Regions from separate parts of the Homo sapiens genome. Here regions 1, 2, 3, 4, 5 and 7 are each reported to be linked to region 6. The links are microRNA targets in miRTarBase. Many come from high-throughput screens and were not tested one by one. Region 6 holds a microRNA gene; each other region holds the end of a gene's coding sequence.

Region 1 (4,360 bases), not on the chromosome of region 6:
AACAATGAACAACCTGTTTCATGAACACAAGGTTATACACTATGATTAACTCACCACTGCACCAGTTGCACAATATTGCTTCTCTTTCTAACTGCTGCACTCACTCCACTGGTGAAGAGACAGACAGGCTTCATCAAATTTGTTGATTCCCAGTGTACTCAATTTGCAGCTTAAAGAACATCATATTGTGGCTATTAAATTATTTTTAATGTACTCATGTCCTTCTCTATGGCAAGCATCTCTTTCTTACAAAGGGGACAAGAAAAGGCTGATTAAAACTCTCGCCTGGTTCATCTACCTGTACAGGTTGGCAAAGAACAATTTATAGTAGAAGGATGACAAAGACACCTATCTGGTTAAAAGTAACAGATAAAATGTTTACTTTAGAAATAGCTAGTTTTGAATATTTTACAGGGCGATAGCTGATAATACGAAAATGATAGCAAATTGGATAAAGTGGTAACTGGCAAGAGTTTTAAAACTCTTATGGAGAGACCCACAGGCTCAACTCTTGGCGTTTAGTATTTTCTCTGCCAATCCTTGACTTCTTATCATTATCAGACCAAGACAAACATTATGTTCTCTGGATTATTTTAGATACATTTTTCAAATGATCTTTCTTTTTCTACCCTAAAAGGTAAGCTTGTACCTAATCACAGCTAAGAGTCTCAGGTAATGCCAACTTCATAAGAAGTAAGTGAGGAGACCAAGAGAAGGCAGTTAAACTCTCCAGATTCCAATAAAGTCCTTGCATCCCTTGCTGATAATATCAGAAGATCTTTAGCTGTGTTAGTGTCTCTGTGAGGGCTTCCTATGATATAACATTATAGGAAATGAGCTATGTGGTTGGAGACAAATTTGGTCACAGAGGTATCTGAGGCACCGAGTTAGAGCAATGTAAACATCAAACCAGTGTAAATACTCCAGAAATGGTTTCTATATCAGAAAGGAGCTTCATGTACATTTTCAACATTTCTCCTAAATACGTTTTACTAAAGCATTGGGAGATACTTAGTAACAGGACATATCTTGGCTAAAATTACATGCTGTTGTGGGGTAAATTAGGGGATTTGGAAATCTTTAAAGTAGTCTGTATACTTTATGGCACCAGAACAATTTGAAATTGTAAAATGAATTACACAGAACTACTAATCCTGAAATAATGAGAGAAGGAATTTCTAATAATGATTACATAGAATCTGGGGTCAGATGTCAAACTTTATGGAGAAAATTTTTTATATCAAGCATTTATTTATAAGTAGAACAATATTTTAAATCAATTTTGTCACTTCTCATTCCTCTTGAAGTTATTACCCAATAATTGTTATTTTTACAGGAATAGTCTTGCAATTATGGGCATCATCAACCTCTGCTTCATGCTACAGCTATCAAATAATGATCTTAAAACAGACCCTGAAAAAACACTCATTAAATAACTGACAGTGACAGAATCTTGGCATAAGTAAATCAATCATATAACTGAAAATGAATAGAAACAAAAAGACATATCAAAACAGAATACTTTTAGAGTTTTATAAAGGTTTCACATTCCCTATTAAGGAAATGCAGGGGACATTACAATTTGAATCCAAAGAAAAAATTGATATAATGACCCCAAAAGTTCACCAAAATTTGCCACAGCAGTGGCAATATAACTTGTTCCTGCTCACTTTCCTTCCAGAAGAAACATCTTAAATGTTAGCTTACAGTTTTCTATCTTCATGGCACAGGCATTGAGATAATGAAGAGCATCCCAGAGGAAACACCATGGGAGGGAATACCCAGCCACAACCCATCTTCGAACCTGTTGCGATGCTGCAGAAATCAGAGGAGCTGGCCAGTTAATGCTGAGAATTTCATCAGGGGCTAACAGCATGAAAGCTTTCAAATTATTAATATTTTGATTCATGGCACATTTATGGGTCTAGTCCATCCTAAGAACATTATAAAGAGACATTTCCTTGGATCTGTCTGTGTTTCTGAAACTGATTCAATACCAGATAGAAGTTCGCAGAGGTAAGCTGAATGATGGACTGGGATTTTTAGGGTCTTCAATGTGTATAACTTCACAAAAAATATGCACAGAGTATGGAAAAAGTAGGTTTGATTGGAAAAAATCTATACGACGAGGAAACAGCCTGTCAAAAAATCATATGCTCATAATAAAAAAAAACGAAAATATATTGTCTTTGTTATTTGGTAAAATTGACTGAAATAAATAATATTTTGATAGGAATGGCTTGTGTTTATCAGAAACTAAGATTAAAAATTAATGTAATGTTAGTTTAGACACAAGAACAGAATAGGCCAATGAAAAATAATTTTGTTACTATTTTTTAGAAAGAAAAGGAAGCTTTACATTAACAAAAATACTGGCCAGTTTTTTGTTGAGATAAGATCAGAAGTCCTTCCTCACCCAATCCCCCAAAATACAGCTCAACTATAGGTGTCTTGCCTTTGGCAAAATAAAATCATATTGTAATACAGAATGAGGTATTATCAATTTTTATGTGATTAATGACATGAAAATTCAGAGTGACCATAGAATTGATCCATAATTGTTCCAAAGTTATTGATCAACAAAGTAACACACCTGCATTTCTGCAATTGATTCAAAGTCAGGAATGGGTGAAATTTGGAGGGAAGAAATATGATTTAGTTTCCAGTACTTTTGTAAACTAAAAGGAAACCTGCAATAATTGCCACTTTTTGTTTCATATCACCATCTTATTTTATCTAAAAAAAATTCAAGGCTAGTTTTCCTTGACTGCATTTTAAAAGAGATTTAATAAACCGTAACTGGTAATTTCTCCTTGTGACTATTTTATCAACATGTGCTAAGAAAAAATGAAATGTGAAGCTGAACACCAAACCAATTTCTAAAATTTTGTTTGAAATGGAAACCTCTGGAGTTCTCTTAATTCCAACTGATAATATCAGCTCCTAATTGGCTTGAGTAAAATTTGGCTAAGTAACCCTTCCAGACATCTCTAACAGATACATTGAATTTCAGCTGTAGAAATGCCAATTTCTCATACTTTCATTTTTTTTCCCAGGGTATTTGTCTTGTACTTCATCATTTACAGTCCTGTTCTTGTCAAAGTGCTATTTATTAAGAATATAAAGACGGCATTATGACACTACCTCCTGCATTTTAACAGAAGTGTGACATTTACCTATTTGTAACCTTATCAGTAATTTATTCATTCTAGTACAGCTTATTGGGTGTACATAGTATATCATTCTTAATTAGCCAAATAGAATTCTTCATTGTGTATCCATTTTTAGCTAGTACATTTTCCCCAATGCAAATCTAAAAGTATGCATCTGACTCAATATAAGAAGTAAATCCAATATTTTAGAAATTCTTCTTTCTGTGTTCTCCCTTTAGTGCCTACCCTTTTCTTCAATGTGACAGGTAACTTGTTCTGATTTAAAACTCACTGATATTTCTTCTTGTATATTGTCTTATATACTCATTTTCTCTATAAGAAAAAACAAATTGAGTATCCATGATGATGAGATCACATTGGGAAATCTTTGATCATGTTTGAAAGGGCCTCAGGGATAACTAGTCAATTCTTTTGAACACTGTTGACTATTCTGGTTTCTTAAAATAGATTTTCTGGCAGAAAAAGAAAGACATGCCATTGTGCGTGGTTTACTCAACAACAATTGTGTGGTTTGTCATTGTTTTTAAAAGTAATATTTTGGTGGGGTTCTTGATGTTCAGTTTCTATGTAGAGTCTAGCAGATACATTTCTTCTCTGGTGGCTTTTCCCCATCCAAGTTTCCAGAATTTCCACCATTGACAGTATCAGGGATTTGTGTCTTCTCCACACACTGTTCCATTCGCTTCATGATTAAGTCCAAAAGGGTTTCTACAGCTTTCTCCACATTCTGTCCAGTTGCTGCACTTGTTTCAAAATATGGTATGCTAGCATAGAAAGGATGGCAAATATTTTTGAGAGGAAGAAATCAGAACAGATACAGCAAGATGTACAAGTGAATCACACATGCAAAAACGGCTGGCTGAGAGATTGTGAAATGATTATGGTTTTGCTGGCTAAGTTGGAAAGCATCCTTGTTTTTTCCTCAGTGAGTAAAAATTGGTGAGCTGCTCTTTAGTATGATTACAACCAGTTTTATGGGCAAGGAAATTGACACAAGAGGTAGTCAGGAAGTTGAAGCCAAGGCATTATCACTGTTTAAAAAAATTAGGAGGGGAAAAATACCCTCTGATCAATAAAACTACTGACCAATGTTACTATTAAAATATTGCTTCCCTTCCACTCAATTATCTGGAAATCTCCTTTAAAAAATAGGTATGCATTGAATAAGGATATTTGTGTGAATACAG
Region 2 (4,360 bases), not on the chromosome of region 6:
TGCATAAGCTATATGCAAATACTACACCATTTTATGTAAGGGACTTGAGCATCCACAGATTTTGGTATTCTCAGAGGATCCTGGAACCAATCCCCAAAGATACTGAGGGCCAACTGTACTCTAACTTTAGTTCAACAATCCTTGCCTCAGAGAAGCCATTCCTGACCTTCTAGAATAGGTCAAATTCCCCTAATTATTTAATAGCAATAAGAGCTTCTCATTTTTATAATGCATATTTTGGTTGCAATTTTATATGTGTGTGATTAAGTCTGCTTGACCCCACCATACTGTATTACTCTGTGAGCTCCAGAAACTTCGAGTTCGGTTTTTTGTTGTTTTTTTGTCACCATTCTACCTCCTATTACTAGCAGTGTTACATATGTAGTATGAATAAATAAATATTTCGTGAATGAATGAACAATCTGAATACTTAAGAATTTTTCCTGGCCGGGCATGGTGGCTCACGCCTGTAATCCAGCACTTTCAGAGGCCAAGGCAGGAGGACCACTTGAGGCCAGGAGTTCAAGACCAGCCTGGGTGACACAGTGAGACCTTGTCTCTACAAAAAAATATAAAAAATTAGTCACGCAGGGTTAATACCTGTTGTCTCAGCCACTTGGGAGGCTAAGGCAGGAAAATCATTGGAGCCCAGGAGTTGGAGATGGCAGTGAGCTGTGATCATGCCACTGCACTCCAGCCGAGGCAACACAGCAAAACCCTATCTCAAAATAAATTAATTTAATTAAATAAATAAATAAGTGTCTTAAATGTATCTCCACATTTCCCTCACCCTGCCTACCACTTATTCAAATTTCCAGGGAGGGGGTCTCCTGATGTATGTTTCAAATTTATTTTTAAAAATATTCTGCAGGTAATACTGATACCATCTCCATTTGGATTATTAGGCCAAAGCTTTCTAATTAAATTGCTGGTATTAACAATTACTCAAACTGAAAGCATACTGCCTAAGAGAAAATAGTCGATTCACTTTGCAAATTCAGTTATAAAGTGAAAGCAAGCATCAAAGTCGCATAAAAAGCCAAAGGAATCTGATCAAGAAATATTCCAAGATATGAACTGAGAGTCAGAACAGATTTATCTCAATGATCTCCCCAACTATGGCACAATGTAATGACTAAAGAATATTTTACTGCATATATCCAATATACTCAGAGATGAGTAGGCAAGGTGTGGGTATCAAAACAAATACAAAATATTTAGTACCCACTCAGTATCTGTTGAGTTACTTAATTAGCTAAATGAATGAACACAGTATGGTCTCTTCCCTCAAAAGTTTTACAATTGAATTGAAAGACAAATTTTTAAACTCTACTCTTATAGTTGCAGAGAAAGATAAAATTAACATCAGAAAGTTTAAAATCATTAAATACTTTATTTAAGAACAGTTTGTTTACCAAGTTAGGACAGTGGTTATGATTTCTCAATTTACACATATTCCTTTTGAAAATCTTAGAAAAAATGTTTCACCAATGTTAAGGTACAACTCTTGAATATGCAGCGTAGTCTTCTCTCTTTATTCTGAATAACAGAAGCACGTAAATTAAATTATCCTCTTTGCACAATTATTCCCCCCAAAACTAATTTATAACATATAATTATCTCCCTAAAAAGCAGTTACAAACCATAAATTGAATATGAATAAAATATGAAAAAGAGCACAAATTTTAAAGCCCTCCATGCAAAAAAAAATTAATACATTGGCTTTACCTATAAACCTTATTTTGTTAATGCTAAGCACAGAACCCTTATGGGCTCATAGGAGTCAGCAAACAGCTACAGATGAGTCTTCTTGTTAAGAATTCATTCAATGCTTCTCAGAATAGCAGATTTTAAAAAATGAATTCACTGAGGTTCTTAAACCTCTGAACATAAGGCAACAGTTCACAACTGATTTCAGAAATAGAAGGTAAGTATTAAATTACAAATTCTACTAGGTCAGTGGGAGTGGGCGGATTCACCTGGAGTGGAGCAGTGAAGGTTTATTTTACCTCTTTCAAGATCTCTCCATATATTCCACCAGTTTGAGATAGGCTGGGGGAGGAGGTGGAATAGCTTAAAAGGTTATATTTCTTATTTTAAAGTATAAAAACATACACTTAAAGGCTAAACCTATCTATAACCTACATCTTAATGTCAGCAAAACATACTGCTTTCTACCCAAATCACCAATTGAATCAGCCTCGCTCATGATTTCAGAGCATAAGGTGTCCAGAGAAGAAAACTCAAGACTGAATGGGCTGCCATAATGGGGAAGTACAGGTAGCCAAAGGCCAGCAATTGAGACAGCATTAGAGAAACTATCTACTATGTCTGAATAAGCTCCCCTACCTTACAAGCATCAACTACTACATTGAAACCATTCTGAGTGCTGCATTTCCTATATGTGCCTAGACTTGGTAATGCCTGATAAATTCTGTATATTACCACGTCTTGCATTTAATAGACAATTTGTTTAATGATACTAACTTTACTCACACTTAATTGACTTTCTCATATCCTGAGATTAATCTAAGAAAACTATTTCAAAGATAAATTTAAAATAATTTTTAAGGAACCCAGAATTTTTATTTAGAACACTGCTTTGACTTTTGTTATTACTTTGTATTTATTAGTATATCCTATTCATAATTTTGCACTGACTTTCAATATAAAATTAAATCTCTGCTTACACAAAATAACTGTCAGCTCCAAATCAACATGAATGGAGTGACACTGAAAATATCATACTATTCCCGATAAAAAGAGTTTAATGCAAAATAATTATTACCTGGTATTTCACATTCGGTTTGTGTCTTTATCTCTACTCCCAGGCAAATATTCTCACTTAAGACCAGTGCCTTCACTGCTTCTTGTAAAGACATTTAATTTAATGTTATTGCATATTTATTTATTTTTTATGCTTATTCATACAGAATTTATTACTTTCTAGAATTTTGGGATAAGAATCATAATCACTAATGCAAAATACTCTTAATTTTTTAAATGTTGTATTTCTCGTTTTTAAATATTAATAGTTCACTATTCTAAGTTTTTCATGAATAAAAAACACATCCTAAGTTCATGAAATCTGTGCGGTTCACTACTGTACCAGGTATTAAAACCTTAAGGGCTAATCCTCTTCACTTATGAGAATTTCTCAAGAATGAGTCAAATGCGCCACATTTAAATTTGCAGATTATTTTGTCTAGCTGCTCAATCAAGAGAAATACCACTCAAAGAAATCAATTCTAAATTCATGTCTTTAATGAATACTATGTTTTGCAACCTGTATAAAAACTGATCACCCAAGCACATGCAAAAGGAATATAGTTATCTTTAGTGGGCTTGCTAAAGTATTGACAACTAATCAGTGTCCTCTAAATACTCTTATTTTGGCAACAGCCCACAAGGTTAACTTTTAGAAAATTCAGCTTGATACAAGAAAATAATTCATCATAATTAGACAATATAATTTTTCCACTTTTGAGACAAAATATATAAATCAATACTTGTTTATATGACTTGCAAAATGTCTATACACTAAGATTGCTACAGTCTATGAGGTAACCAAAGGTAAGTGATACACATCCTTTAGAAAACACAATTTGTCTGGGGGGATGATTGCACATGTATTTAAATATGTTAAAACCACTGAATTGTGTATTTTAAATGTGTGATTATATGGTATGTGAATTGTATCTCATGAAGGCTTTTTAAACAAAACAACACTGATGTAACTTAGACCAAAAAAAAAAAAACCACAATTTGTCACACATTGTTCTTTTGAGACATATTTTTATAAAGACAGAAATTAACATTTGTAGCATCAGCAGGTTTGATTAGCACATGTTACCCATGTAGGTATAATTGTCTAATCAGTAGCCAAAGTGTGCCCTTGATGCTAATCACCCCTATAACTGAATAATCTGCAAATTACAAAATGAGTTGTAATCCCCCATCCACTACCAGAACATGCCCTGTAATATACGGTGATTCTAAAAGAAACACAACCGCATGTGCCACCTCAATAGTTTCTCCAAACCTCCCAAGAGGAATATTTTTCTTTAAATGTTCTTCTTTCAAGTCTTTCGTCATATCTGTGTGTACAAATCCTAAAAGAGAAATGTTTGTTTAGTTGAAAAGGGTACACACTAAGACATCTGCTGAATTTCAAAAAAAATAATAAATTTGTTTCTGAAAATTTTAATTTGAAATTATTTAAAAAAAAATTTTTTTTTGAGACAGGGTCTCACTCTGTCACCCAAGCTAGAATGCAGTGGTGCAAACACGACTCACTGCAGCCTGGACCTCTGGGGCACAGGTGATCCTCTTGCCTCAGCCTCCCAAGTAGCTGGGACTA
Region 3 (4,360 bases), not on the chromosome of region 6:
TATAGACACTGAGCCCTTCCTCTGCACTGGTGTCATCATTATTATATTAGCATAGGAAGGACTGACAGAGATGGGGGTAAAGTGGCCAGAGAAGATGATAATGGCTGGGCATGGTGGCTCATGTCTGTAATCCCAGCACTTTGAGAGGCCGAGGCGGGTGGATCACTTAAGGTCCGGAGTTCGAGTGCAGCCCGGCCAACATGGTGAAACCCCATCTCTACTAAAAATACAAAATTAGCTGGGCATGGTGGCGGGCACCTGTAATCCCAGCTACTCAGAGGCTGAGGCAGGAGAATTGCTTGAACCCGGAGGCAGAAGTTGCAGTGAGCAGAGACTGTGCCATCACACTCCAGCCTGGGTGACAAAAGCAAAACTCTGTCTCAAAAGCAAAAACAAATAACAAAACAAAACAAAACAAAAACCCCTACAAAACAAACACCCCCCAAAAAACAGAGAAGATGGTAAATCACAAGTTGAAATCAAAGAGAGTAATCCATGGAGACACGAAAAGTGCATAACACAACCATGAACAACTAGAAATGTGTCACCTGTCTTCTGGAAGCTGAGGGCGGAATAATTCCCCCAGGATGTTCTTCTGATGTAGCGAATGAGAGGACGAGCCTATTTGTCTCGTAGACGAAGCTGGAAATTTCAGCTCAAGGGTTCAGGCTCCTCCCTGTGCATCCTTTAGAAGTAAACACAGACTAAAACCTGCCATTATGCAGTATATTGCTGCTGTGATGAAAAGCACTATGATGTGCTTGAACGAATAAGGACAAGATTGCAACAGAATTCTCAGCATATTAATAGAGACAGGCTTTCAGAGGGACTTGCTACTCATTTACTGTCACTTTCTTAATGACAATGGAAAATGCTGGCTCCTCTTCTATATCCAGGGCTACACATTTAAACAAAACACTCTTATTTCCCGCTCAATGCTATCTCTGATTTTGGCAAAGTACAGGTGGGTGAGAGTATTAGATTTTGCAGTTATTTCTTGAGGCATATTTAAGACATCAAAGATAAAAACACATGGAGTCACGTGTAATAATCTTAGAGTCCAATAAATGACTAGCTACTTGATTAAACCAAATGGCATTATAGCATGTTAATAAGGATTAAACAGACGCATTTTCACCGTCATTACTTAGATGGAATGAGTATTTTTTTTTGTTAACTTTTATTTTAGGTTCAGGGGTACATATGAAGGTTTGTTATATAGGTAAACTAGTGTCATGGGGGTTTGTTGTACAGATTATTTTGTCACCCAGGTACGAAGCCTATTAACCAATAGTTATTTCTTTCTGTTCCTCTCCCTCCACCCACCCTCCACCCTCAAGGAGGCCCCAGTGTGTGTTGTTCCCTTCTCTGGGTCCATGTGCTCTCATCGCTTAGCTCCCACTTACAAGTGAGAACATGCAGCATTTGGTTTTCTGCTCCTGCATTAGTTTGCTAAGGATAATGGCCTCCAGCTCCATCCATGTTCCCATAAAATACATGATCTTGTTTTTTATAGCTGCATAGTATTCCGTGGTGTATATGTACCACATTTTCTTTATTCAATTTGCCATTATGGGCATTTAGATTGATTCCATGTCTTTGCTATTGTGAACACTGCTGTAATGAACATTCACATGCATGTGTCTTTATAGCAGAATGATTTATATTCCTCTGGGTATATTCCCAGTAATGGCATTGCTGGGTTGAATAGTAGTTGTTTTTAGCTCTTTCAGAAATTGCCACATTGCTTTTTACAATGGTTGAACTAAGGTACACTCCCACCAACGGTATATTTGTGTTGTTTACTTTACAACCTCGTCAACATCTGTTCTTTTTTGACTTTTTAATGACTGGTGTGAGATGGTATCTCATTGTGGTTTTGAAGACAGACATGCAACCAACAAGCATATTTTAAAAAGCTGAATATCACTGATCATTATGGATAAGCATTTTAAGTTAGATAACTGATAACAATTATATTCCTTATTTTAAATATAGTCATTGATATACTACAAATTGTATTTCTCTCTCTATGTTTGCCTATAAAATTTATTTACTTAATCAAAATGGTTGCCTGATATAATTTCCCCTGCAAAAGTTGTCAAAAGAATAATGTTATTGCCTTAGGCAGGAACTCAAGCACAAAGATAAAAAGCTGTATCTGAGTATTTGCTGTATTTTATTTGTTCACATTTAGCCTATTTGAGGTTAACACTACTTCATTTGACAGTTTAAAAATCATCCTGTAAATAGAATAAAAAACAACAGCAGCAATAGCTAAAAAAAGGACACAATGTATAATAAAATAAAGGAATGTGTTGAAAGAAATATTCCAAAGAAGCAAAGGAAATGAGACCATGATTATGAATTCAACAATCAGAAGAAAAAATCGTCCAACATCTGTAAAAAGCAAAATCATAACAGTAATAAAAAAGAAGCAAGAATTCAAAGTGCAGGTGCGCTAGCTTTCATTTCCACATCCATTCAGGAAATAGAGCATACTATTCTTTTATATAAAGTGACAAGTTCTGTTTTTAAAACATTCAGTTACATTATCTTGCAGATTTTTTTTCAGTTTACATTATCTCTACATTGATTTGATGGAAAGATGGTCATATGCGATATGTGGTATAAATTTCTTCAATCTATGGAGAATACGGAAATGGTAAAGTTGACTGTTTTACTTATGTTTTTGCAGTAAGAAGCTAAACATCCAGTATCAGAAGCATCAGTACTTTTACTCTTTCAAAAACAAAAGCAAAGCAAAAGCAAAAACCTGTCATGAGCCCTCTGTCTTTGCTGCTACTTTCAGATTCTCTGTGACAAAAGACTGTTACTTTTCACTGAATTCTAATGAGTTGACGTAAATAATCAGAACAATTTCTTAAATGCAAAATTGGTCTGGTATCTGTCTAAATTGGTCAATACAAGTGTTATTCTGGAATCATGTAAAAATCACTTACTTTCATAACTGTTTAGAACCCCAAATGTTTTCCCTTTGAAGGGGAACATCTGTGGAATATGATTTTGAATAGAGGACTTCTATGAAATATATTTCAAATCTTAAAAATATTTTTAATACTTCCTAAAGTGGTATAGGATTTACCCTCGCTGACTATGCCTTCCATTTAAGAACAGTCTTGCATTTGTGGCTTTTCATTTTCCTTACAGCTCTAATTTTATTTAAAAAGCCTGAATACACAAATGACTGCTGCCTTACTTAGCATTAAACAGTACTATTTTTTAAACCATGTATACAGCTCAACAGCAAGATTAATAAGTTATAATACACACATATCACTGACAGATTCATCTTTTTGTTTTTTAGAATTCACGAAATAAACTGTATTCTGGTAAATCCCCTCCCCGCAACAAGAGTGTAATGTACCTACATTGAGGTGTTTAAATATTTCTCCAACAGTTTTCATTGAATTACATTATGAAAACACTAGGCTTCAAGCCAGGTACTAATAAATATTTAATTTAAAAGAAAGAAAGAAAAAACTCAACACAGAAGAACATAAAAAATCCCTCCCCTCCCTCTCCTCCCACTCCCCCGGGAAGGCGCCCGTGTCAGCCGGACATGGCCGAGATTTCATAGTCACTGGCCGAGGTGAGGGGCTTGCCCATCATCCGGATGTTTTTTGCACTGGTAATCCTGGCCATCATGCACACGGGCTTGTCAAAGTACTTGACCAGGGCAGGCTCAGTTAAGAGGGAGGCCAGGAACTGCTCGAAGGTGATGGCCCAGTCCCGGTCCAGGCTGGTGCTCCGGGGCAGTGCCGCCGTGCCCTGGCCGCTCCGCACCAGGACCGTGTCCTCTCCGATGTCCTCGCAGTGCAGCTTGTCCTCCTCGTGGGAGCCGGCACTCAGCACCGAGTATGAGGACATGGAGCTGTCGTCCTTGGTGTCGTCGTCAGAGATCAGCATGGAGGAGCAGGCCCCGTTGTCCCGGGGCGAGGAGTCCTCCAGCTTGATGTCCTCCATTTGTCCTCCAAGGGAGTGTTCCTCGCTGTCGGGGGCCAGGCTGGCCGGCAGGGGCTCAACAGACTCCACCACGTAAGGCTGGCCTGGCCCTTTCTTGGGGAAGAGCACGCCTGGGATGCCCTGGTGGCAGGACGGCCCACTGCCTCCGCTCCCGCCCTCCTTTGCAGGCTGGGCCACGAACAACTTGCCGACCTCCCCAATCTCCAGCAGGAGGCTGGTCACTGCTGCCGTGGCGTGGTACAGCTCCTGCTCATTGGGGTCTTCGCTGAACATGTTATACATTGTCTTACACAGTTCAATGAACTGCCCCTGAAAAGCGATTTGGAAAAACACAATGTGAAATCTTGGGGGAGCAGAAAGGCAGCACTGAAGT
Region 4 (4,344 bases), not on the chromosome of region 6:
GGAGCACAGAGAGGATAATTTTGCCTTCATTTATGAAATGGGGATGGTCACAAAGATCAAAAATCACAATGAAGAGATAGCAGAGGGTGGAGCTAGCCAGAAATCGCATCCACTTACCTGCTATAACTTGGTTCAGTCCTTCTACCATCCAACAGTAAAAAATGAAACTGACATCCATTTGTAGAAGTTATAATTCAGATTTTTTTTTTCTTTTTCTTTTGAGATGGAGTCTTACTCTTCCATGCAGGCTGGAGTGCAGTGGTGTAATCTCAGCTCACTGCAATCTCCGCCTCCTGGGTTCAAGTAATTCTCCTGCCTCAGCCCCTCGAGTAGCTGGGACTACAGGTGCGCACCATCATGCCTGATTACGTTTTGTGTTTTCAGTAGAGATGGGGTTTCACCATGTTGGCTAGGCTGGTCTCAAACTCCTGACATCAAGTGATCTGCCCACCTTGGCCTCCCAAAGTGCTGGGATTACAGGCATCAGCCACAGTGCCCAGCCATAATTCAGGTTTGAATCAAGGATTCAAAGCAACCTATGTCCTAAAACAAGGTTTATGACTTTGTTTGAAAAAAAGAAACCATTTTAGATTTATTAGCAGTTAGTTGAAACAACAGATTTTGTGATTTTTGTCAGGTCTTGCCAAATGCATGTCAAATGTACAAGACCCTCATGTTTATGCAGATATTTGTGAGAATGTCTTTAACTGAGATCCAATCCTGTGAATAAAACCAGTCATGAATATACATGGAAATTTGCAAAGTCAAGTGTACAGCCCTTTTCTATCTCTCCAACCCTAACACTCAGAATAATATAGATCATCCTTTCCTAACTCATACGTAATGTCAGGCTCATACTGGGTTTCAAAAAAAGCATAATGAAGTAAATTGTTTTTTTTTTCTTCTCTCTTTTTTACAAAGTGTTATTTTAAATTGGCAAGGGGTAAATATCTGTCTTCAGCTATAAATGTGAAACTAATATTTCTGCCAGTAATGATCTTCTAACTTTAAAAACAATGTCCTTAAATCATTTAATAATTACATTCCTAATAATTACATTTCTAATACAGTTCTCTAAGAACTACAGTTAAAACCAGAATAAAATATATTCTGTGGACCAAGTTGATGGTAATTTTAAAATCCCTAACATTTATGGGTATATAACTTTTAAGGATACTAATGCAGCATCAACCCAATTGTCCTTTATTTTGGCTCATCTAATTTACAGACATGATTTCTGAAGTTTAACAGTATTTGTAATGGCAATATCCAAAGTGATTTTGGCTGAGTAAACTGCTATTTGTTGAACAAAAATGTAGTTGTTTGTGCAAGTTTAAACATTTCACAAGGCCAGCTGAGTTCATTTCAACCCTACTTACAAAATAATTATTGGCAAATGAAATGGGCTGAGGGGGTAGAGACAAGATATTTTCAAGCTTCTGAGAGATTTACAAAGCCAAGTTCTTCAACTATTGAAAGTGAAATTGAAAGGTCACAGACAATTGAAAGGTACAGGTTTAAATCTCAGGATTAAAAAGAGTTCCAACAAGAGGAATATTTACAATGGAACAATGAGGAAAATGTTTTGTTACAGTCAGAAACATGGAAAATATGCTGTTCAAAATTGTTGGCTCAGGAATAAATAAAATCCAGACTTGGACTATTAAAAATATCAAAGTGATCCACTGTGTGCCAACTCCATTTTCCCCTGTTGTTTGTTATAAAGAAAATCCGTTATTGAATATAATGCAGTTCTGGTTAAATTATCAAAGACATTTTCCATATGCAAACTGTTGTTTACCATATGCTATATATTCTTCGATAACAATTTTAATACACCTCTATCACATGGTTCCATAGGTGCAGCGTTAGAAGGAAATTTTGAGTTATATTTTAATCTCTTACCCAAGGTACAAACCCCCTTTGTAACAGCCATTCAGCTCATTCTGTTGAGCACCTATTATAAACAAAATTAGAGATACAAAAATACCTTTAAGATGTTAATGGCCTGTTAGGTGGAAGAAAGCATCTTTGTCCAATGGTTGCCATTAAGCCTAGACTGAAACTCTTCTATCTTGTGACAGGGAGCTCACCACAATGCAAGGAAACCCATTCTTTCAGTGAGTAGCTCTATAATTGGGACCGTGTGTATTAAACTGGGGCTGACATCAGCTGACCCTGGTTTTGCCTTCCGGAATAGTATGAGCCAAATCTACTCCATTTTTTTCAGCTGAGCTCTTCAAAGATTTTTGAGAGCACTTTCCTGTGTCCTACCTAGTTTCTCCGCCCACCACCTTCATGCCATCTTATTTCCTCTTATTTTCACTACCACGAAATGCTTTCCTGCCCTTAGGGATTTAAAAAATTATTTCATATCGACGGATTGAGCCTAACAGCTAAATACTCAATATTGCACTTAAAATAAAACAGACTTTAAAAATTATGACATTAAGAAACCAAAAGTTACAGCAATTGGATACAGTCTGGGATTATCCCTTTGTAATTAGATGAGCATTGACTAACGAAAGATGTTTAGGGGAAAAAAAAATGGAACAGAACACCTAAGGCTTGCCAAAACTGTGTATATTTGAGAGGGGGGCATGATAAATCTATTATAATGAAATTCATGTGCTCTAAGACAATGACTGAACTTGGTATTTAAGACTATTTAAAAGTCACAAGATGAATTAGGTCATGTTTCAGAAATGACTCTACAATCTAAATTTCTCACAAGCAAGTCAGGTTAATGACACCAGACTCTGCTACTTTCAATGGATAAAACAAGGGATCGACTCATATGTTAAATTTTCTTCTAGTGGTTATACATTTGGTACTTTCATAAGCCATAAGTAAGAGACCCAGGATAATTTAAATCCAGGAGACTTTATTTAGCCTCCGGAATGGCCCCTCCAACCCCAAATCCATGCAAGAACACAAAGCCAAGGGGTAAACTAAAAAAAAGAAGAGATTGTTTTATTGTGACATTTATGACATTGACCCCTTGTTGACAGGAATGACCGAGGGTAATCTTGGCATATTGCACATGCTGTGATGAAGGATGCACTGGTGATCCTCTGGCCACTGAGGCTGTTTCCTGGTCCTCCCAGACCTCTATGCACGTGTGGGCCAGTCACCGAAATTTCATTACCACTTGGTGTATACATTTAACAAGTCTTTGGTCTTAATAAGCACCATTACAAACCCTCACATTAAGGGCATTATTATTCTAGTTTATAAATGTTTCAATGATAAAAAATAGCACGATTACAGTATACACACACTTAATTTACATGTAATGTATTATACTCATAACTGAGATAAGCTACTGAACTAACTTTGGTTGATTGAAATTAATGAAGTATTGGAACTGAATACTTGTAATTTGGTTTCTAAGTTGTGTACATATTACAGTGCATTTATAAATCTAGTTTGAAAATTTACTAGCACCAAATAGGTACCATAAATGGACAACCTAGTACTTGTATTTGGAGAAGCAAAGTTTACAAATTTGCAAAAAATAGAGTAGTCCATCAATTGAAAGCACATTCCCGTACGTTTGCTGGAAGGATGGCATGTCAGCATAAATGGCCAACCCCCAATGGAAATACACGTCCCAGTTTTCAAGAATCAACACATATGACAAGGTAGCTTAGCTACACACATGAGAAGCCTGAGAAAGTGGTTGTTTTGAACTAGGGTAGTCACCTGTACCTTGCTTTGGTAATACAAAGAATAGTGCTTATTTATACAAATTTACTTGGTGAAAGATTGTACCTATGATATGATGATTCTGATTGGGGGAAAATATAGTTCTACCTATCTATATTTGTTTTTCTTTTAATTATTTGGTCTCTGGATGGTGAATTAATGAAGCAAAACCTGGATTTTCATCTTCAGATTATCACCCAGTTCACCACTGAGGTAGTCTTTGTCATATTTGTCTTCTAGTTGGTTAAGTTCTTTCTTTTTATAAAGTGGAGTACTACTGATTTGTAATGAATAGGTTCCAGCCACTGGCTTCTTCTTTGTGAAGTGGAGGTAGCTGATCCCTTCCTTTTGGTTGATTTTAAAGAAGCCATCTTCATTTCCAGATTCGATCAAGTATCTGTTGTGATTCGTCAGAGTTGTAAGAGCTGGAAGGAGTTCTAGGATTCGAACCTTGTTACTGACGTGGGAAATATTGAAAGCAAAGATGGCTGTCTTCTCAACATCCCAACTTGCAAGACTCACATTGGCTTCTGTCTCAGACTGATCCTGGAAAGACACATGGCAATATGTTAAATACAATGTACATATGCCACTTAGCTCTCATATTAAAGAAAAAATGACTCAAATTTCACACTA
Region 5 (4,360 bases), not on the chromosome of region 6:
AGCGGCGCCTGTGTGCCCATAGCCCTTTCCCGGTTCTCATGAAGCGTGGCCTGGAATTAGCCTGGGGCAGCTGGCAGGGTGGGGGTGCTTCCAGCTTCCCAAAGGTAAAGCACTGAGAGTTTGGGGCCTGGGCCTCCTGTGCTGCTCCTAACCACTCAGCTGACTCCCCTGGCCCTGATGTGTGGCTTGATTTTTAAACACTAAACAGCTTGTGGTGCCTAACCTGTCAGTTGCTGGTAACTTTGTAGGCCGTTTACGAATGGACAGAGCGGGTGCCCGGGTAAGTGCAAGGAAGGCGCCCCCAGGCTGTGTCCTCAGGGCCGCTGTGCTCCTTCACAGATGGCCACTCCTGATGCTGGGTGGAGTTTTTGCCCCCACTCCTTGCCTTACAGGCCATCTCTTTCCTTTTAATTAACTTCCAGCCTAAACGGCTTTGTTCTTTTGGATGTTGACGTCACACAACGTGCTGTGGGAGTTATGCACGATTTTCTACTGGCTGTTTTGGGGGAGACCAGGTGTTGTAGACCCAAATTTAGACTTAATTTCAGTACTACTAGTACATGCCCTTAGGGTGACAGGGCAGACTTCTCGTCACATAATGAAAGCGGGACGTCGCTCCTTTAGTCGTCCTCAGCTTGTGCTGCAGTCTGTCTTTCCGGCGGGGGGACCCAGGCCTGGGACGGAGTCTGGTGTTGTCAGCACACTGCCCACCAGAAGGAGCTAAAAACTACCCCGAGACTGAGTCTGTATTTTATGATATTAGCTCCATCCAGCCGTACAGTAGAGTAGACCATATTTTAAGTTTCTTGTCTTGGTAAAAATCTGTAGAGTAAAATAAAATGGCAGTTTCGTGTGTGGGGCTCCCCCATCTCAAGCTGCCCTTTGAGATCTGGGCAGGAACCCTTAATCCCATCTCTCACCTCACCCACTAGACCTTGTGCCGGAGCCGACTACTGGAGATGACAGTGATGCTGCCACCTTTAAGCCAACTCTCCCCGATCTGTCCCCTGATGAACCTTCAGAAGCACTCGGCTTCCCAATGTTAGAGAAGGAGGAGGAAGCCCATAGACCCCCAAGCCCCACTGAGGCCCCTACTGAGGCCAGCCCCGAGCCAGCCCCAGACCCAGCCCCGGTGGCTGAAGAGGCTGCCCCCTCAGCTGTCGAGGAGGGGGCCGCCGCGGACCCTGGCAGCGATGGGTCTCCAGGCAAGTCCCCGTCCAAAAAGAAGAAGAAGTTCCGTACCCCGTCCTTTCTGAAGAAGAGCAAGAAGAAGAGTGACTCCTGAAAGCCCTGCGCTAACACTGTCCTGTCCGGAGCGACCCTGGCTCTGCCAGCGTCCCCGGCCACGTCTGTGCTCTGTCCTTGTGTAATGGAATGCAAAAAAGCCAAGCCCTCCGCCTAGAGGTCCCCTCACGTGACCAGCCCCGTGTAGCCCCGGGCTGACCCAGTGTGTGCTCAGCAGCCCCACCCCACCCTGCCCCTTGTCCTCTCAGAGCCTCAGCTTCTGGGGGAGACATGCTCTCCCCACAGGGGGGAGGCACTAAGTCATGGTCCTGGCTGGAAGGTACTGAAGGCTTCTGCAGCTTTGGCTGCACGTCACCCTCCTGAGCCTCACCTTTCCTGCCGTCCCTCCTGTTGTGAAATCACCACATTCTGTCTCTGCTTGGCTTCCCCTCCACCCTAAAGTCTCAGGTGACGGACTCAGACTCCTGGCTTCATGTGGCATTCTCTCTGCTCAGTGATCTCACTTAAATCTATATACAAAGCCTTGGTCCCGTGAAAACACTCGTGTGCCCACCAGCGGCCTTGAAGAGGCAGGTCTGGGCCAGATGCTGGGCAGGAAACCCCAGCGGCAGATGGGCCTGTGTGCACCCAACGTGATGCTATGCATGTCTGACCGACGATCCCTCGACCAGAATCAGATTCAGGAGCTCAGTTTCTTTTTCACTTGGGTCTCTGGATTCCTGTCATAGGGAAGGTATATCAGGAGGGGAAGAGGCCTTTCTAGAATTTTCTTTGAGCAGGTTTACAATTTAGCTTACATTTTTCGACTGTGAACGTGAATAGGCTGCTTTTTGCTTTCTTCTTTCCAGACCCCACAGTAGAGCACTTTTCACTTATTTGGGGGAGGCTTCAGGGGACTGTTCTCACCTTAACTCAGCCAGAAAGATGCCCTAGTTGTGATCAAAGGTAACTCGAGGTGGAGGGTAGCCCTGGGGCCCCTCGACATCACCGTCATTGATGGAGCCTGAACCGTGTGCTCCTCGGCAGATGCTGTTGTTGTTACTTCCCTCCAAGAGGCTGGAAAAGGGCTCAGAGCTGCTGAGCAGGAACCGGAGGGTGACCCATTTCAGGAGGTGCCGGTACCAGCCTGACTAGGTACAGGCAAGCTTGTGTGGGCCCAACAGGCCCTTGGTAGAGCTGGTGCCAGATGTGGGCTCAGATCCTGGGCATGATGGGCCGAGCCACCTCGGATCCCACTGATTGGCCAGCCGAGCGAGAACCAGGCTGCTGCATGGCACTGACCGCCGCTTCCAGCTTCCTCTGAGCCGCAGGGCCTGCTACGCGGGCAAGCGTGCTGCCTCTCTTCTGTGTCGTTTTGTTGCCAAGGCAGAATGAAAAGTCCTTAACCGTGGACTCTTCCTTTATCCCCTCCTTTACCCCACATATGCAATGACTTTTAATTTTCACTTTTGTAGTTTAATCCTTTGTATTACAACATGAAATATAGTTGCATATATGGACACCGACTTGGGAGGACAGGTCCTGAATGTCCTTTCTCCAGTGTAACATGTTTTACTCACAAATAAAATTCTTTCAGCAAGTTCCTTGTCTAAATCTGGGAAGCAGTTTTATATTTTAATTTCTTTGTTCCCATGTTTGTCTCGTGCTGAAAAGAGACCTCCTAATGTTCATGTCTTGATAAAATGTCACCTGCAGCCACGCGTGCGGCAGGACGTGCCACCCAGCACTCCTGGTGTCCCTCTCCACGGGAACTCAGGGTGTCCAGGGAACTGCTGGCCTGTCCTTGTCCCCATGGTCCCAGTCTCACTGTCACTGTGTGCTCATGTTTGATGGGGAGGGCTCTGTGCTGGGGACATCCTGCCAGGGTGCGGGGCACACTGCCAGATACCACCTGGCCAGGGCTGACCCCAGCCTTGGAGGAGCCTGCCTGAGTGAGTCCCCAGGCTGCCACTGTGCAGAGGGGGAAACTGAGGGTCTCAAAGAGCCTTGGACCCTTCCGGTCAGTGGAGCCATTCATTCAGCTCCAGCTGCCTTTCCTGGTGTGGGTAGAAGCACGGCTATATATGGCGAAAGGCACTTGGTATAAAACAAACAGGTGCTTTATTTCATCATCAGAAACCTGGTGCATAGTTTAAAAAACAAACAGAAGCCCTGACAGCCTTGGAGTGCTGCAGCTCGGAGTCACTGAAGGAGTAAGTAAGTCTGGAGGAGCTGCCTGAGCTTCCTGCTTAGGGGCCGGCCCCCACCCACAGGGTCTCCCTGGACTGGCGGGGGGTGGGGGTCAGGCAGTGGGCAGGGGCCTGACCTAGGCTCCCACTCTGCCTGGTGCCCACAGCCTGGGCACAGTGGCTCAGCTACTCAGCCTTGAGCGTCTGTGCCGGGTAACTCAGCTTCTGCAGGAGGAAGAAGGGGAGCAAAAAGAGCCCGGACCACGTGGTGAAGCAGGCCTGGGCCCCGGCCAGCCAGTACACTGCGGAGAGACGGTGGCGTCACCCAGTCCCCGAGGGGGCTGGCACTTGGGAGGCGAGGGCAGGTGCTTGGCCCCCAGCCTGCCCCAGCACCATCCCGCGCCCTCACCTGAAGCGGCCACCAGGGGCCCCGCGGCCCTGGCCAGAGCACCTAGGCTGCGCAGTGTACCCATGACCGTGCCCTTCTGCCCTGGTGAGCCTGTGGGAAGAGGCACAGTCAGGCACCACTGCCCTTCTCCCGCTCAGGTGGCTTCGGCCGAGGGAAGGGGGCTCACCATAGCCAGCGACCACGGAGGACAGGCAGGGCACCACAACGGCGGCGGCTGGTGGGAGACATCGAGGAGGTGCCCGTCAGCCCAGGGGAGGGTGCATCACCCAGCCCCTGCTGCCCATCGGATCCCCTGCCAGGGCAGGGCCACTCACCAAAGGAGTAGAGCAGCAGCCCCAGGCCCAGCACGGGCAGAGAACGTCCCCAGCCGATGAGGAGGAAGGCGGGCACCAGCAGCAGGAGGGCCTGCAGGTGGGCACGGCAGCCTCAGCACAGCCCGTGCCCTGCAGGACTCAGGGGACTGCCTGCCACCCGCTTTGGAGGGAGCCCCCTACCCGCTTCACGGCAGCAACTTCCCCGCCAGGGTGGATCCGCCGGG
Region 6 (4,360 bases):
CGTGAAACTCCAACCCAGCCATGCCCAGCTGCAGACCCACTGCCACACAGCCACAGCATGCTCAGTGGCCTCTGCACACTGCAGGCTCTGCGGAGACATTGCCCTGCCCTGGGTGGTAAGAGAGAACCAACTCGCTCCGGGCTGTCCCCTCGCATGGACGGGCTGCCTGGAGGAGCAACAGAGTCATGTTGGACCTCTCTTCCTGATGAGGACAACGGGAGGTCCTTTCATGTCCCGGGGCTGCTGTCCCACCCCACGCCAGGGTCAGTGGCAGGACAGGGGCCAGGGCCCAGCTGGACCCCACCGCTTAGCAAGCCTCCTGTGTCTGTGCCCGGCCTGCACCCCCAACTGGCGCCTCCCTGGCCCCCGTCCCCCCCAGGCACCTGCAAAGCCTTCTTTCCACCTCTCACCACCGCACGTGCCAGGCTCGCCCTGGGCCACTGCGAGGCCTCGAAACCCTGCAGGCCTCCTCCTCCTCCTCCTCCTCCTCTCCCCGCTCCCAGCAGGTTCGGGGCGGCTTCCCTTCCTGCTGGTGAGGGCCTAACCTTGAGGTCCCATTGGTCTCCTTCTGGCTCTTTCTCCACATTTTTCAGAGTCTGGCTTCACGGCTGGTCATAGAAGTTGGCAGGGAAGGAGGCAGCCTCTGCTTCCCACTCAGAGACATTTTTAAACGCAATGAAAAACATATCGATACAATTAAGTATTCCAAAGTGCTTAGTTTGCCACTCGCTAAGTTTACTTAAACCCTCTTTAACAGGCTCATTAGGAGCTGGTGAGCACCGGGAAATTCATTAACAGGAAGGCGGCCCCCTGCATTTGACTGTAAATTGGTATTGATCAGGGGCTGGTGGAGGCTGGGCGGCTGGCCACAAAGAGCCAGGTGTGGGACCAGCCTCCCGGGGGTGCCACGGCAGTGGCGCTGGGCAGGTGACGGTGGCTGCTGACCCCCGGTGCCCATGTAAGCTGCTGGCTCTGCGCAGCTGCCGCTTCAGGTGGGCCGCACTGCGCGGCGGTTCAGGGTGGTGACGCTGCGAGGCGGGGACGGGGGAGAGGGTGAAGAAGAGCGAGAGAAGGAGGGAGAGAACCGGGGGAGCGACGCTCCCTCGCCCACTGGGTGTCTGCTGTGGCCAGGCTGAGGCACCTAGGGAGTTGCCCCCCTAGTGGACGGCCTCTCAGGAGATCCTGACCACCCTCTGGGAACCTGGACTCCTCCAAGCATCGTCTTTCTCGCCTGCATCTTCGGAGAGAGGTGCTGAGCCCTTCCTCATGGATACGGGGTCCCGGGAGGCAGCCTTCACCAGGGACCTGCCCAGGAAACCAGCAGATGCCCAGGTAAGCCCCCAGGACACCTCTCGGGTCTCTGGTCTGCAGTTCCTCGTCTGGCCTCAGGAGCAAGGAGTTGTCCAGCTCCCGGAGAAGGAGGAGGCTGGTCCTGCGAGTGGGGTGCTGGGCAGGGCGCCCCCCAAGGTTCCTCTCTCCACCCAGCCCTCTCTGGGCTTGGCTGGGATGAGGTGACCCAGGGGGACAGGAAAGTGTTGGCTTTGAAAGTTTGGGACATGGATGATGCCTCCCTGCTCTGGGGTGAGGGTGGAGGGGCAGCCTGTCTCTTCCATGGACGCAAAACCGAGCTACTGCTGGGGCCAGGGACAGGCGCTCGAGACTTTCTGGGGCTCACTGTCCACTTCTGCCTTTCTGGATCGTGTGAGTGTGTGAGACAGACAGAGAGAGATGGATTCAGGGATGGAGGGGCGCCGAGGTCAGAAGGGGGCAGGGAGTCCTGGGCCCCTGGGGGTGGCTGGACACCAGGCAGCAGTGGCAGGAAGGCTGTCCTGCTCACACAGAGAGGGCTCCGGCAGTAGACTCCAGGGAAGAAGTTACACTGCCTCTGAGCTGCCTTCTCTACATCGCAGTGGGGTCAGCTTCTACCGGGGCGGCGTCCCGGGGTCTTGGAACTGCATGCAGACTGCCTGCTTGGGAAACATACTTCTTTATATGCCCATATGGACCTGCTAAGCTATGGAATGTAAAGAAGTATGTATCTCAGGCCGGGACCTCTCTCGCCGCACTGAGGGGCACTCCACACCACGGGGGCCGCCGCGGCCGACAGCCAGCCAGGCGGCTGTGGTGGGGGTGAGGCTGGGGCGGCAGGCTGCCTGGGCGTTGGTGGACGGTCGTGTCCCCGCCAGCATTGTTCTGTCACTTTGCCTGTGTCAGCAGGTGGAAGTGCTCACCAGACATTAAATATTCAGCTTGCTGACTGCGGCAGAGGGGAGGCGGCCTCCGGCAGGCGCGGGGTCCAGCGCGGGGCTGGTGAGGGCTGGGGGGTCGGGGCCGTGGCTGGAAAGCACGGAGTGGTGGCGGCGGCTCTGGGGGCTCCACTGATGGCCATCCTGGAAGAGGCCATCAGCCGGCAGAAAGGGCCACGTGTGGCCAGGGCAGAAACTGCTCAGAGGCACAAGACAAGAGCGAGTTTGGAAAAGGGCAGGTGGCTGGATGCAGAAAGGAGGGAGAGGCTGGGCAGCACATGGTAGAGTCTGCGGAGGGAAGGCACCTCCTGCACCTGCATCCAGCCCTCCCGGCTGTAGGGCAAGGCAGAGGAACTCGGAGGCATGTAGCCTCCAAGGAAGGCGCAGCCCACACGAGATGCTGGGGACGCGGGCAGGGTCAGGGCCACCACTGCCCTTAGGCCCCACTCCTCTGCCGAGGGCACCTGGGACAGGGTCAGAGGAGCTGAGTCTGTGCAGCCCTGAACCCACAGCCCACCCCAGGGGCCTGGGAGCCGTTCGATTTTGCCAAATGTCTGGTTCATGCCGCCCCAACCTGTACCCCCACCAAAGCCCCGGTTCAGCTTTCTCTCTGTTCCGCCGAATCCAACCTGAGGCATGTTTTGCTGTGAATGCAGGTGAGGCTTTGGCAGAAAGCAGCGTGTGGCCCAGGGCCCCTTGCCCCACCTGTCGGGGGCCTGAGAGCCATCTGCTCTGCCGCCATCCCAGTCCTGACCCGAGAAAGGACTGGGAGGATGTCCTGGGGCCCAGGGGATGAGGGCAGGTCCGGATCCGTCCGTGAAACCCTTTTCCCCAGTGCTGGTCCTTCAAGGAGAGGATGGGCGGCGGGTTCTGGGGTCTTAGGCAGCGGCTGGGCTGCTGTGTGAGGGGCGTTTGCCCGGCTCGTTTCTGAGTCTCAGATTGGAGGCGTTTGCCACCTGGGATGAGGCCAGGTCCCTGCCTGGGCACCCCCACCCTGCCACAGGCCTCAGGATTAATTTCTGGGGTGTGTGTCCTCTCTGCCTTGGCACTGCTCCAGCCACAGCGGTGCCCCTGTGCCCTACCTCCCGCACCCTGGCCTTCGGCAGGAATGAGGCGGGAAGGGACAGGCAGGCAGCCCCCTCCTGCAGCGGCTGGAGGCCTTGGGTCTGGGGGCAGCCAGGTCACCTGAGCAGCTGGGGCCAGCATAGGGAGCGCTGGATAAAGGGATTGGGGGCCGTTCTGAGCTTTCAGGTGGCTCCCACCCCTCAGGGAGCCTCGAGGTGACTGGAGGGGAGGGCCTGGCAGTCAGGGCTCCTGGCCTTCAGGTCTTCCTTCTGGAAACTTCGTTCTCCCAGCCTCAGCCCCATCTGGCGTAGCAGCAAGGGGGCGGGTGTTGACCTCGGGCACAGCCTCCTCTCGGCCTCTGGACCCGGAGGGTCAGTGCCCAGCATCCGCTGACGTCATCTCTTCCCTGCCTGCTCCCAGCTCCGGCCACAGGGAGGGAAGTAGCCGGGCGTGTGGCCACCGAGGCTGCCGGTGGCCACAGACACACCGTTCTTTTCCCCTAGATGCGGCTGTTGTACATTAAAGCTTTATTGCAGGATGTGGTGTTTAAATAAAAGCATTAGTGTTTTGGAATTAGGTTTGACTGAGCAGTAAAACTGGAGAGTTCACAGGGAGAGAGCTGCGGCCTGCTTGGCGGTAAATCACCTCCAGTCTCTGATCTGCTGAATTAAAAATGAGCATTGCACGGACACCGCCCATGGCAGCCCGAGCCCCTCTCCCCTGCACGTGTGGCCTGATGGTGCTCCCTGGGGATCCTGCTGCTTTCCTGGAGACACTGGGACCCGGGGCTGGAGTCTCCCATGCGTGAATCTCTAAAGCTTGGCTCCCGGGCAGCAGCCAGGACGGGAACCCCAAACTGGCGTGGGGCATGGACACGCTGGGACTTTCCCCTGTGGGGGTCTTTGTGCCTGTCCGTTTGAAGGAGGGGAGAGCAGGCAGGGCGGGGGCACAGACCCTCACTGGCTATGTCTTGCCCGCAGGGACTCTCCTGAGACGGCTTAGGCACGCTACCATGGGGGCCGGGACTCTCAGAGGGAAATGAGCCTGGA
Region 7 (4,360 bases), not on the chromosome of region 6:
GTTACCATAAGTGCATTTTTAAAATACCAACCTTTCACCATCCATCCACAGCCAATTTTAGTCAGTAGTCATAGAGGGATAATGAGTCTCTAATGTCATGACAGTTACACATTTCTAAATGTAGCATGAAATAGTTGGAAAGTAGTATCTTATTAGGCAAACAGAAGTGATAGTTTTTGGATGTTAGAGCTGTCTAGGAATGGTCTTCGGTGACTCACAACAAGAATTGACTTCCAAACTCCTACCATGGTTGCCCATAAGGGTGTCAGACTAGATTATTTGTTTTTATGCTTTGAGTGGATATAGCTTAAAAGAGAGGAGCAGTTTCCTAGATACTTTCGTTACCATCAATGGAGATATTTTGTCTTTTTCAGGATTGGATGTGGTCTTGATCGTCTGCAATGGGAAAATGTATCTGCGATGATCGAGGAGGTATTTGAGGCAACAGACATCAAAATTACTGTGTACACACTCTGAACCAGTGAACATTTTGGATGTTTCCGTGTTCTCCTGTGTCATCTCTACTGGGCCATAGGACCGGGCAAACCTACCTTAAAATAGGCAGAGGAAAGTTTCATGAGAAGTAGTGTGTTTAACAAGACAGACTTTGGTTGCTGTATTCAAGTATTTGGATTATGACTGTGGAGGAGGGCTTGCTTAAGATATGTGGTTGTGTTTTTTTGTGGAAAAGTAAGGAGTTAGGTGGCTTGATAATAGGCAGGGAAACCAGATTGTCGGGACTATGACCTTTTTCTCCAGTATGCTACCTGATTTGTTTGGCTGGCCACTAGGTGGCAGCATTGGTTCTACTTCTCTGCTTTTTAAGAGAAATTTCAGGAAGGATGATCATTCCAGTTAGTTTGGCATTTTTTGTCGTTTGTGCACATAACTTGGTGTTATCCTTATGTCATCAGATTCCTCCTAGGGGAGAGTTTTTGTTTTAATTACAAAATTAAATTCTACATTGTTACCAAGAAATTTGTGGTGATAAAAATGGAAAAATAAAAATTTGGGGAGTTAGTGAGGTTCTGTGCTTATGTCTATTTGTTCTGGACATGGGTAATGGAGGGTTCACCTGCAACTTAATTTCAAACAGTCAGACAAAGGGTCCAAGCGGGAGGAGAAGCAAAGTGAGAAATAAGAGATAAAAATAGACAAGTCAAAAGGCAGGTTTTTAGAATCTCCTCATGGTGAACTTTTTCTCTCTTTTGTCCACTGCATGGTTTCTGTGATTGAACCTGCCTGAATTTAATCATGAAAACAAGTGAAATAATGTATGTTAAATGCCTGGCAGAGTACTTAGCACAGACTAGTGACCCAATAAATCAGTGATTGTCAAAAATCCTTATGAGTCTTCTTTAAAAAAATAAAGGCCACTTCCTCTCAAAAAATTCTCATACCTGTCATCTCAGCACTTTGAGAGGCTGAGACTGGAGGATGACTTGAGCCCAGGAGTTTGAGACAAACCTGGTTAACATAGCGAGACCCTGTCTCTACAAAAAAAAAAGAAATTAAAAATTAGCTGGGCCTGGTGGTGCAGGCCTGTAGTTCCAGCTACTCTAGAGGTTGAGGCGGGAGGATGGCTTGAGCCTGGGAGGTTGAAGTTGCATTGAGCTGTGATTGTGCCACTGCACTCCAGTGTGGGCAACAGAGCAAGACCCTATCTCAATTAAAAAAAAAAATTTGGTGGTGGAGTGGGATGGCCACTTTTGTGTTTTTAACCTCCATAGAAGATTTGGATGTGCAGCCAGCTGGGGTCTAAATATTAGTCCTCTTTTCTTCCGAAGCTGCAAAGACCAGTCGTCTATTGTGGTCATGGTAGGAAAATAAAGTTCATGGATTTAGCCAATGGTTCAGTATCAGAGCTATTCGGGAAACTAGACATTTTCTTGTTTTCCCTTACAGTGGTGTTGAGAGTTAAAACAGCCAGACTTGCTATTGATTTTCTCCCTAGAGTGACTTTGGGTCTGTCACAGGACTTGCTGCTTTCCCAAGTATAAAAGAACAACTGTATTTTAGAAGGGGCTGGTTAAAACACCAGGAAAGTACTGGTTAAATATAATCTTTGTACTTTAGACTGTGTTCTTATCACATATCAGCCTGATAAGAGGCAACAGTTTCAAAAAAGTATTTCACTTTTGTATTTCTAGGTGGAACAGACAAGTTCTTCATGTTGTTGGGGTAGGGGCAGTGGAGGGTCAAGTTCATTATCAAACTTTTAGATTGAGGCTTTTCTTGAAGCATTGCTTTTGTCCACATAAAGTTGAAGGGAAAAAGGAAGGAGAGATTATCTAAATACACAAAATTGAAAGTGAGAGTGGGGGATAAGAAACTTAAAGAAACTTAAAATATTTTGCTTAACTCTGCAATTACAGATGCTCCTCAACTTAGGTCTATGTCTGGGTAACCCCATCTTAAGTTGAGTTCAGTTGAAGGGTGTACTGAATGTGTATGGCTTTTGCACCGTTGTAAAGTCCAAAAATTGCAAGACAAACCATTGTAAATTGAGTACCATCTGTAAACCTTAACACAAGTCAAAACATGGATTTTCTAGGCTTCCTTTACTTTTAAAGAGATTATGGTTATTATTATTATTTTTTTCTTGGCGTTTGAGCCTTGATTCTTTAGACAAAACCTAGTCTCATTCAGGATTGGCTGTAAGTGGAATTCTGGGACTTAGCAGGAATGTGATAAAGCACTTTGTCATTTGCCGATAGTAGTCTTGGGTCAAATTCCGACGACTTATCACACTTGAAGCCTGAGGAAAGGAGGCATGCCCTGGTAATCAGAGTGAACACATTATTCCTGGAAACCTAGTTAGAGTTTGGCAAACACCCGGAAATTCACCTGTGAATTTTTGCTTCCACATAGGACTCAAACAAACCTTTAAAAAAAAAAAAAGAGAGACTTGACATCATCCTGCCATTACCATCAAACACCATGTATTGAATACTTTTAAATGATTGTATATCTGAACATTAAACTACTACTTTTCACCCGCTCCTCTCTAATAAAGAAGCTAGTTGCTTATTAACTGGCATTTGGGATGTGGCTACCTTAGATTTCTCATGCTTTTTGTTCCACCTTCTGCCCTATTACTTGCCTTCAGAGAAGGGAAAGGCCCTCACTTGATTGTCGTAAGAAGTCTGTATGGGAGAGTTATTCTGCATTGTCTAGGCAAGTCTTGGTTTAACCATGGCTTGGTTCATAGCCTGGAGTGTCCCTGTGTCTGGACTAGCTCGCTTGTCTGTGGCAACTTCCAGATGTTCAAGTTTCTTAAAAATCTGGCCACGGGAAAAACACACCACTTCTTTTATTAATGTTGCTGTTTTTCTTTTTTTAAAAAAATACCCAACTTAACATAAAATGCATATTTCAGAAATCTAAACCTCGGGTCTGAGGCTGTTTGTGTTAAGCAGCCCCCTTGGGTGAGCAATTAGGACCTTCAGTCCCATAGTTGACTGGAGCCCATGTATGGTTGCATTTCTCTCCTTGCAGGTCACTTTCGTCCTTCCCGAGAGCAGCATTAGAGAGAGAGTCACAGCCTAAATAAACTACAGCATGAGAAGTATATTTCAAGTCCTCTAAGGGCCTTGTCCAGTATGATTGGTTGGTGTCAAATGTTGTCCAGCTCCAAATGGTATTAGGAAGACAGGCATGTCCCAGATGGCTGTACATGTCATTGCTGTCTCTTGGTGGCAGCAGGAATACCTTGGTAAAACAAACAAAGAAAATGTGTTACTGAGAGCTCTGCTGGCCCCGAACAATGACTAGTTTCTTTTTGAACTAAGGTTTCTGTGTGCCCTTCCCAACAAGTCCCTGGATTTCTCCTCCATAGTTTCCTTTGCAGGATTGGGTAAATTTACCAGGATTGACTAAACCAGAAGCCAGTCTTTCGTTCATGTTTTGATGTGGTTTACACAGAAAAAGCCCCAGAAGAGATCTGGTTTAACTCTGGTCTTTTGACTAAATATAGGATTAAATACTATTTTGTCATTAAAAAAAAAAAAAAGAAAGATGAAATAAGTATGTAAAATAAGACACTTTATTTAACAAATGCTCATTTCTCAAGATTATTTTAATTAAGCAGGGTTGTTCTTTTGGGCTTTTAGATTACACTCTTATCTCATGCCAGTTTTTTTTTTTTTAACTTGATATATCTTAACCTTTCCCTTCACAAACATGAGCAATTCAAATAGAAGACAGGGAAGCATGTTAATGGGTCCAGATAATACAGTTATATTTGAAATCACTGAAAAAAAAAAAAAAAAAAAAAAGCTCTAAGGACTTGCTAGTTAGGCACCTGGGCCCTTGACTCTGAAAGATGTCTGAAAGGAAAATATACTGGGGTTAAATTTTA

Evidence for each region. Region 6 holds the annotated microRNA hsa-miR-1-3p (UGGAAUGUAAAGAAGUAUGUAU, at 2,018-2,039, shown strand). A microRNA usually pairs through its seed, bases 2 to 8, with sites in the 3' UTR of a target mRNA and lowers its output. Matches are read on the target gene's strand: a 7mer-m8 pairs with bases 2 to 8, a 7mer-A1 pairs with bases 2 to 7 and ends in A, and an 8mer does both.
Region 1: the mRNA of RAB27B is a reported target of hsa-miR-1-3p. The part of its 3' UTR that is shown has no 7-base or 8-base seed match.
Region 2: the mRNA of CBR4 is a reported target of hsa-miR-1-3p. The part of its 3' UTR that is shown has no 7-base or 8-base seed match.
Region 3: the mRNA of TBC1D9 is a reported target of hsa-miR-1-3p. Seed matches in the 3' UTR shown: 7mer-m8 at 2,311-2,317.
Region 4: miRTarBase lists FBN1 as a target of hsa-miR-1-3p. The part of its 3' UTR that is shown has no 7-base or 8-base seed match.
Region 5: the mRNA of SLC75A1 is a reported target of hsa-miR-1-3p. The part of its 3' UTR that is shown has no 7-base or 8-base seed match.
Region 7: miRTarBase lists OARD1 as a target of hsa-miR-1-3p. Seed matches in the 3' UTR shown: 7mer-A1 at 848-854.

What each region holds. Positions count from the first base shown.
Region 1 is chr18:54,888,801-54,893,160 of GRCh38, reverse strand. RAB27B (RAB27B, member RAS oncogene family) reads right to left here. Exons shown (of 6, transcript NM_004163.4): 6 at 1-3,937. The coding sequence ends at 3,748. Among named protein-coding and RNA genes, the nearest start is that of RAB27B, 63 kb to the right of the region's middle.
Region 2 is chr4:168,986,217-168,990,576 of GRCh38, forward strand. It overlaps CBR4 (carbonyl reductase 4), which reads right to left. Exons shown (of 5, transcript NM_032783.5): 5 at 1,374-4,112. The coding sequence ends at 3,934. Among named protein-coding and RNA genes, the nearest start is that of CBR4, 22 kb to the right of the region's middle.
Region 3 is chr4:140,618,622-140,622,981 of GRCh38, forward strand. TBC1D9 (TBC1 domain family member 9) reads right to left here. Exons shown (of 21, transcript NM_015130.3): 21 at 2,161-4,296. The coding sequence ends at 3,574. Among named protein-coding and RNA genes, the nearest start is that of UCP1, 52 kb to the left of the region's middle. RefSeq lists an enhancer at 1-189.
Region 4 is chr15:48,407,126-48,411,469 of GRCh38, forward strand. FBN1 (fibrillin 1) reads right to left here. Exons shown (of 66, transcript NM_000138.5): 66 at 1,188-4,254. The coding sequence ends at 3,865. Among named protein-coding and RNA genes, the nearest start is that of DUT-AS1, 77 kb to the left of the region's middle.
Region 5 is chr4:2,927,239-2,931,598 of GRCh38, forward strand. It overlaps SLC75A1 (solute carrier family 75 member 1), which reads right to left. Exons shown (of 13, transcript NM_001146069.2): 9 at 4,317-4,360; 10 at 4,137-4,227; 11 at 3,989-4,036; 12 at 3,823-3,912; 13 at 3,329-3,715. The coding sequence ends at 3,600. It overlaps ADD1 (adducin 1), which reads left to right. Exons shown (of 16, transcript NM_001354761.2): 16 at 933-2,824. The coding sequence ends at 1,285. Among named protein-coding and RNA genes, the nearest start is that of SLC75A1, 5.4 kb to the right of the region's middle.
Region 6 is chr20:62,552,334-62,556,693 of GRCh38, forward strand. MIR1-1 (microRNA 1-1) reads left to right here and starts at 1,973; the gene lies at 1,973-2,043. MIR1-1HG (MIR1-1 host gene) reads left to right here. Exons shown (of 4, transcript NR_171007.1): 2 at 1,132-1,332.
Region 7 is chr6:41,063,452-41,067,811 of GRCh38, reverse strand. It overlaps OARD1 (O-acyl-ADP-ribose deacylase 1), which reads left to right. Exons shown (of 6, transcript NM_001329686.2): 6 at 375-3,040. The coding sequence ends at 477. It overlaps APOBEC2 (apolipoprotein B mRNA editing enzyme catalytic subunit 2), which reads right to left. Exons shown (of 3, transcript NM_006789.4): 3 at 2,921-3,711. Among named protein-coding and RNA genes, the nearest start is that of OARD1, 6.7 kb to the left of the region's middle.